2 linked regions of the Homo sapiens genome follow. The protein of the gene in region 1 purifies or fractionates together with the protein of each later gene. This does not show direct contact. Each region holds a gene or a part of one and is shown in the gene's direction. Other genes may lie near its edges. The genes, in order: RHBDL2 and OTUD7B.

Region 1 (3,820 bases):
CCATCTAAAACTCATTCATCCATCCACAGCCAATAACAACTAATAATTATAGGGTGTTTACTACGTGCCAGATACAGTTCTTTTCTTTTTCTTCGAGACACAGTCTTGCTCCATCACCCAGTCTGGAGTGCAGTGGTGTGAATTTGGCTCACTGTAACCTCTGCCTCCCAGGTTCAAGCGATTCTCCTGCTTCAGCCTTCCTTCAGCTGGAAGTACAGGCACGTGCCACTATGCCCAGCTAATTTTTGTATTTTTAGTAGAGATGGCGTTTCACCAGGTTGGCCAGTCTGTTCTGAAACTCCTGACCTCAAGTGATGGGATTACAGGCGTGAGCCACCACGCCCGGCCCAGATACTGTTTTAAGTGCTTTACATGCATTATCTCAAGTAAGCTTCCCGGCAATGTTATGAAGCAAGTGCTATCATTATCCTCAGTTTAAAATGGAATCTGAGGGTTTCCCAACAAGTTAAACATAGAATTAATTACCATATGACCCAGCAATTCCACTCATAGGTATATGCTCCCCCTCAAACTGGAAACTGATGTTTAAAGAAAACTTGTGCCAGGTGCGGTGGCTCATGCCTGTAATCCCAGCACTTTGGGAGGCCGAGGCGGGCGGATCACGAGGTCAGGAGATCGAGACCATCCTGGCTAACATGGTGAAACCCTGTCTCTACTAAAAATACAAAAAAAAAAAAAAATTAGCCAGGTGTGGTGGTGGGCACCTGTAGTCCCAGCTACTCAGGAGGTTGAGGCAGGAAAATGGTGTGAACCCGGGAGGCGGAGGTTGCAGTGAGCCGAGATCACACCACTGCTCTCCAGCCTGGGCGACAGAGCGAGACTCTGTCTCAAAAAAAAAAAAAAAAAGAGAAAACTTGTACAGGGATGTTCACAATAGCGAAAAGGTGGAAACAACCCAAATGTCCATAAACAGACGAGTGGATAAACAAAATGTGGCGTGTCTATACAATGCAATAGCATTCAGCCATTAAAAAAAGGAAATTCTAGGCCAGGTGTAATGGCTCATGCCTGTAATCCCAACACTTTGGGAGGCCGAGGCAGGTGGATCACTTGAGGTTGGGAGTTCGAGACTAGCCTGGCCAACATGGTGAAACCCTGTCTCTACTAAAAATACAAAAATTTTCTGGGTGTGGTGCCGGGTGCCCATAATCCCAGCTACTTGGTAGGCTGAGGCAGGAGAATCGCTTGAACCTGGGAGGCAGAGGTTCCAGTGAGCCGAGATCGCACCACTGGACTCCAGCCTGGGTGACAGAGCGAGACTACATCTCAAAAAAAAAAAAAAAAAAAGAAAACATGTGAAGGAAGCCAACCACAAAAGGCCACATACTGGATGGTACATATGTATTGTATGATTTCATTTATGTGAAATATCCAGTATAGGTCAATCTATAGACACAGAAAGCAGATTAGTCGTTGCCAGGGACTGTGGTAAGAGGAGAATAGGAATTAACTGCTTAACAGGTATGGGTATGGGGTTTTTGTTTGTGATGAAAAAGTTTTGGAACTAGTGGTGATGGCTGCACAACATTGCAAATGTACTCAATGTCACTGAATTGTACACTCTAAATGGTTAAAAACAGGGCCGGCTTCGGTGGCTCACGCCTGTAATCCCAGCACTTTGGGAGGCCTAGGCGGGTGAATCACTTGAGGTCAGGAGTTCGAGACCAGCCTGGCCAACATGGTGAAACCCTGTCTCTACTAAAAATACAAAAATTAGCCAGGGAGGGTGAAGCAGAAGAATTGCTTGAACCCAGGAGGCAGAGGTTGCAGTGAGCTGAGATCTCGCCATTGCACTCCAGCCTGGGCAGAAGAGCAAGATGACTCCACCTCATAAAAAAAAAAAGAAAAAATATATATTATATATTAAATGGCGAAAATGGTAAATTTTATGTTATGTGTATTTCACCACAATTTAAGAAATATGTAATTTGAGGCTTGGAGAATTTAATTAAGTGATTTATCTGATGTTAACTTACAGCTGATACATGGTAGAGCTGCATTTTAATCTCAGTCATCTGGCTCTTTTTAAAACAATTACATAGAAAACTTTATTTTGGGCCATTTAGGAGGTTTAGATCATTTTGATCATCTTCAGCTGTCTTCTCTTCACATACAGGAAAGGCCTTGGAAAGCAGTCGTTGCGCCAGACAGCCCAGGGAAGAGCGGCAGCCTGAGGACCTAGGGCCACCTGCTGTTCCCTGGGATTCATGTCCTTCTGGGGAGGAGGGAGGACCCAGGACAATGGCTGCTGTTCATGATCTGGAGATGGAGAGCATGAATCTGAATATGGGGAGAGAGATGAAAGAAGAGCTGGAGGAAGAGGAGAAAATGAGAGAGGATGGGGGAGGTAAAGATCGGGCCAAGAGTAAAAAGGTCCACAGGATTGTCTCAAAATGGATGCTGCCCGAAAAGTCCCGAGGAACATACTTGGAGAGAGCTAACTGCTTCCCGCCTCCCGTGTTCATCATCTCCATCAGCCTGGCCGAGGTGAATGGGGAGCGGGGTGGGCACCGGGGTAAGTGGCATGGGGAAGCTGGGAACAAACTAGGGGTCAGATCTAGATCTAGAGAAGAGACTGGGAACATGGGAGAGAGCTTCGTGGGGATGGGGACAGCACACACCTCACCTCTGCCTCTGCTCTCCCCACAGCTGCCTTTGAGGCTTTCCCTATACTCACGGTCACTGCCAACCCAGGGTGGAGTTTCATTTGTCAGACAAATCTGCCCAGCTGTGGCTGCAATTTCAGTGGCTTCCTTTCATTTTAGTTGTGAGGTCTTTAGGAAGCAAATCATTCTGGGGTTGCACAAGGGCTTTCTCTCATGAACCGATTTAGGCTGGTTGGTAAGGCATTTCTGGGACCCCAGGTTTAGAAGTGTTATAGAATTCTTCTGAATTTCAGTAGGAAAAAAACGGGATCCTTTAACAATGTCTACTTCAGGCAGCACGTGGTGTGTTTTCAGGCTCTGATCTAGTCAGTCCTCTTGTTTTCCAGAAAAGACTGCAAGGCTCAGAGAGGTGGGATGACTATCCCAAGGTCACATCATAGTCACTGGGCCAGGATGAGGCTCCCCTGTACCTCGTGGCACCTAGTTTTTTCCCCCACACTTGATGTCCTATAAAGGAACTGGCCAACCATGGCTGCCTGTGGAGTGTGACTTCAGGGGCATTAGGAAGTTCCTAATGTAACCCTTTTAGTTCCCACTGATGCACTGATGCCTCAGCTTCCTTATCACAAACTGTATTAGTCAAGAGTTCTTCAGAAAAACAGAATCAATAGGTGTGTGTTCCCTGGGGGAAGAGAGATTAATATTTATTTTAAGGAATTAGCTCAAATGATTATGGAGACTTGGCAAGTCCAAAATCTTCAGGGAAGGCTGGCAGGCTGGAGGCCCAGGGAAGACTTGCCATTCAAGTCCAAAGGTAGAGTTCTGCTGGCAGAATTCCCTTTTCCTAACAGAGGACAATCTTTTCTCTAGCAAGGCCTTCAACTGATTAGACAAGGCTCACCCACAGTATGGTGGGAAATCGGCTTTACTCAAAGACTACTGATTTAAATATTAGTATAAACCATACCCTCACAAAAACACCTAGGATAATGTTTAAGCAAATGTCTGGGTAGCATAGCCTAGCTAAGTTGACACATAAAATTAACTGTTGCAGGGACCAAGCCTCTTATGGCTCAGACAAAGGTAAGGCTAAGGTGTAAGCATCCTGGGAGATGCTGTGGTCAAGTCTGTTTAGGGTGAAGGGGCACAGTTCTAATTTTTTTCACAGGATTTCACTGTGAGACTGCTTGCAA
Region 2 (3,820 bases), about 110 Mb from region 1:
GGCAGTTTTTCTCATGAATGCCTGAATTCAGTTGACTTTTTAATATAATAGAAGAGAGTTGTTTGTTTGTTTTTAAATAAGACATCCTTGCTGAGTAATGATTGAACACTTCTCTGGATAAAGCAGTCTCCATGCTCCAGTGACAGGCTTTAGGGAGGTATAAAAGATGTAAAGACATGTGTCTTTGCTCTTGGGGTTGAGGGTGGATGGGAAAGGTGGTGTATAAATATGGGAAGGCAGACTATTATGAGCTTTAACATTTAGGAAACAACATATAGACAAAAGCAAATTTAACGTGCTGATAAGTATGTAAGGGCTGAGAAGACTTAAAGTAACAAAGTAAGAATCAGTGAAATAAATTGGGGAGATTTCTGAGTCAGTAAATTTTGAAATGGACTTGGGAGGCTATGGATGAGTCATAAAGAGGTATGGGCTATTGAGTTAGATGGGTCTTCGTTCAGACCTTGCGGCTATTTTTTACCATGTGACCTTGGACAAGTTAACTTCTTTTCCTTATCTGTAAAATGTGAGCATTCAAGTAAATGAAATAGTTACTGTGTTGGGAATAAAAGAAAAGAAAGGATCTTCCAAACAGAAAGTATAGAATGTACAGTGTGCAATGATGATATGAATGACTAAGTTGTGAGTGGGGGGAATATATGAGAGTGACTGTAGAGAATGTGGGTTGGGCAAGTCATGAGTAGAGCAGGCAAGAGGGTGGAGGGGACTCAGAAGCCAGACTCTGTTGGGTGTTGATAGAAGGGTCAATAGAATCATTGTAGGTCCTTGAACAAAGGACGGATTTAATGAGAAATATTGAGCCCTTTGGTTCAGGAACTCAGGGACAAGGAATCAGGCAGGCATCCGTACATTGTGACTCTTATTTTCTGTACCATCCTAACCTGAAGGGATACAGCCAGGAGGCATAAGATTCCTTGTAGAAGTTTTTGTGTTTACACACCTTACTATGCTGAGCCTGCTTGTTCCTGTCTCGTAGTGCACCAACCTGTGGGGAAGTCTCAAGACTATGGCCGGATTCTCCTCAAGAGCTTATAGTAAGGACAGCATTATGTTTCAAGTGCATTTAACTCTCAGTTGTCTCTGCTAATGTAGGGAGCACTGTTGTAGGTAATTCAGAACTTAACAAAGACATTTCCTGGTTATTTTCAACTGTGTTTTTTTTAGGATTATACCTTATCCCTTTATTTCCTCTAAGAAATAGTTTTAGATAAGAAAAATTACTAAACTGTTATTTGTAGTGACCCACTATGAGTTTAATTCTTTGCTAGGTGCTATGGAGGTTTAGGAAAAATGACAACTTTGCTCCCAGACTGAAGTACAGTGGCGCAATCTCAGCTTACTGCAAGCTCTGCCTCCCAGGTTCATGCCATTGTCCTGCCTCAGCCTCCCGAGTAGCTGGGACTACAGGCGCCCACCACCACGCCCGGTTAATTTTTTGTATTTTTAGTAGAGACGGGGTTTCACCGTGTTAGCCAGGATGGTCTTGATCTCCTGACCTCGTGATCCGCCTGACTCGGCCTCCCAAAGTGCTGGGATTACAGGCGTGAGCCAGTGTGCCGGGCCGAAAATACATTATTTTTTAAACTAGATTTATTTTCATTTTTGGGGATCATACTAATATTGAAATAAATTTGCATTTCTAAGCTTATATTACCTGATGGTGGGGAGAGTACACTGATGATGAAGAACAGTCATTCTTGCATTAAAGATTTGGCCTTAGAAATCCGTAAAATGAATAATCCATTTGTAGATAATTAAGACTAGACTACACTGAATATGTTGATAGACCAATTTCTTTTCAAAATCTGTATGGATCCAATGTGGCCTCCTAGGCTGTCTGTCTTATGTCTGAGAATGACTGGCAGGTGATGCTTGTGTTCCAGCCAGAATGAGCCTTCATTCACAGTATCTGGACGAATGCCACTACATTATGTTGTGTTGTTGAAGATTAAGCCGGCTTTCTCAAAGGACTTGTGCTTTGTAGAGGCTCTTCCAGATATCAGCTTCATTGAAAATCTGTCAGACTTTTCCTCCTGTAGGAAAGTTGTTTGAAAGTATGTCCAATTAAAAAAAAAAGGAATGGGCAGAAGTGTCCACATTTAAGAAGTAAACAAAATCACATGCCATTCTTTCATCCCTTTTTTTTCTTCTCCAGTTGACTTGCTTTTCTCCATCCCTGCCACTCTCCCCCACCTCTTTATAATCATTACCAAACTGATGTCACGAGCACAGGATTATTATTTACTTCTTGAGTCAGGAGATTGTAGTATTTCTGAGCTAGAAATCAGGTGGAAAAGTCAGGAATCTTATTTTATACAACTAGATAGGGATTATTTTCAACTGTGCTTTTTTTAGGATTATACCTTAGCCCTTTATTTCCTCTAAGAAATAGCTGTAGATAAGAAAATTACTAAACTGTTATTTGTAGTGACCCACTATGAGTTTAATTCTTTGCTAGGTGCTATGGAGGATTAGGAAAAATGACAACTTTGTGTCCTTGAAGAGTTTACAGTCCAGTTGGGAGTAAGAAGAATAAAAAGGAATGAATACTTGCTGAGCCTCTTAATATGCCACACAAAATTTTAAAATGTGAAACTATATTGTTAGTTGCATAGTGCAGACCTCATACCGTAGGTATTTGGGGAGAGGAGTACTCAGGTAGTTATGTCACAGAGGAATTATAACTCATTTCAGATCTTAATAAAAAAATAGGCCAGGCACAGTGGCTCACGCCTGTAATCCCAGCTACTCAGGAGGCTGAGGCAGGAGAATCACTTGAACCCAGGAGATGGAGGTTGCAAACAGCCGAGATAGCACCACTGCACTCCAGCCTGGGTGACAGAGCAAGACTCTGTCTCCAAAATAAATAAAAAAATAAATGAATAAGTGTTATTGTATTAGGTACAAGGGATGAAGATGAAGAGGATAACAAAACATTTCATATTGGAGCTGAAAGGGATCAAGCGAAAGCCTGGAAACAGGACTATACCTGAGATGTTCTTGGGGCGGTGAGGAGACTAACCTGAGTGGCAGTGAGCAGTAGTGAAATGAAGGTGGGTAGGTTGGTTTGGAGCTATGTTTATAGAGGGTGTTAAAAAGCTAGGCTTATAAGTTTATATATATATATAAAATTTATTTATTTATTTATTTATGTATTTATTTATTTATTTTTTTGAGACAGGGTCTTGCTCTGTTGTCCAGCTCAGGCTGGAGTGCAGTGACACAATCTTGGCTGACTGCAACCTCCGCCTCCTGGGTTCAAGTGATTCTCGTGCCTCAGCCTCCTGAGTAGCTGGGATTACAGGCGTGCACCAGCATGCCCAGCTAATTTTTGTATTTTTAGTAGAGACAGGATTTCACCATGTTGGCCAGGCTGGTCTCAAACTCCTGACCTCAAGTGATCCGCCCACCTTAGCTTCCCAAAGTGCTGGGATGACAGGCATGAGCCACCGTGCCCGGTCAACTTTATATTTTAAATGGTAGAAGATTTTTGAATAGAATAGCAGTATGATGATACTAATACACAGGTTGGCTGGGAGGGAATGGAGATTGACACTGGGGGTGTGTGAAGTGATGAGGCCCGAGTTAGAGTTGTGGAGGGTAGGCTAAGGAGAGGAAAGAGTGAAAAAGAGACTGTGAAGGAAAAATGGAAATTAATGAGGGGTGGATGTGGGAGATGAAGAAGGGTGATGAGTCAACTACAACTGTGACACGTTGTGCCTGGGTGTCTGAGACATTGAGTGAAATAAAGAAGTTAGGAAGCTTTCCTCATTTTGGGGAAATATGATGAGTATAATTT

The links.
Region 2: the proteins of RHBDL2 (region 1) and OTUD7B purify together in Homo sapiens (affinity purification with western blotting; one study listed by BioGRID). This does not show direct contact.

The regions. Positions count from the first base shown.
Region 1 is NC_000001.11:38,917,655-38,921,474, reverse strand, and holds part of RHBDL2 (rhomboid-related protein 2), read left to right. Parts: intron 1-1,945; exon of another isoform or gene 1,946-2,137; coding exon of another isoform or gene 2,138-2,262; coding exon 2,263-2,508; intron 2,509-3,820. UniProt on the Homo sapiens protein: Involved in regulated intramembrane proteolysis and the subsequent release of functional polypeptides from their membrane anchors. Known substrate: EFNB3.
Region 2 is NC_000001.11:150,003,940-150,007,759, reverse strand, and holds part of OTUD7B (OTU domain-containing protein 7B), read left to right. Parts: exon of another isoform or gene 1-1,055; intron 1,056-3,820. UniProt on the Homo sapiens protein: Negative regulator of the non-canonical NF-kappa-B pathway that acts by mediating deubiquitination of TRAF3, an inhibitor of the NF-kappa-B pathway, thereby acting as a negative regulator of B-cell responses.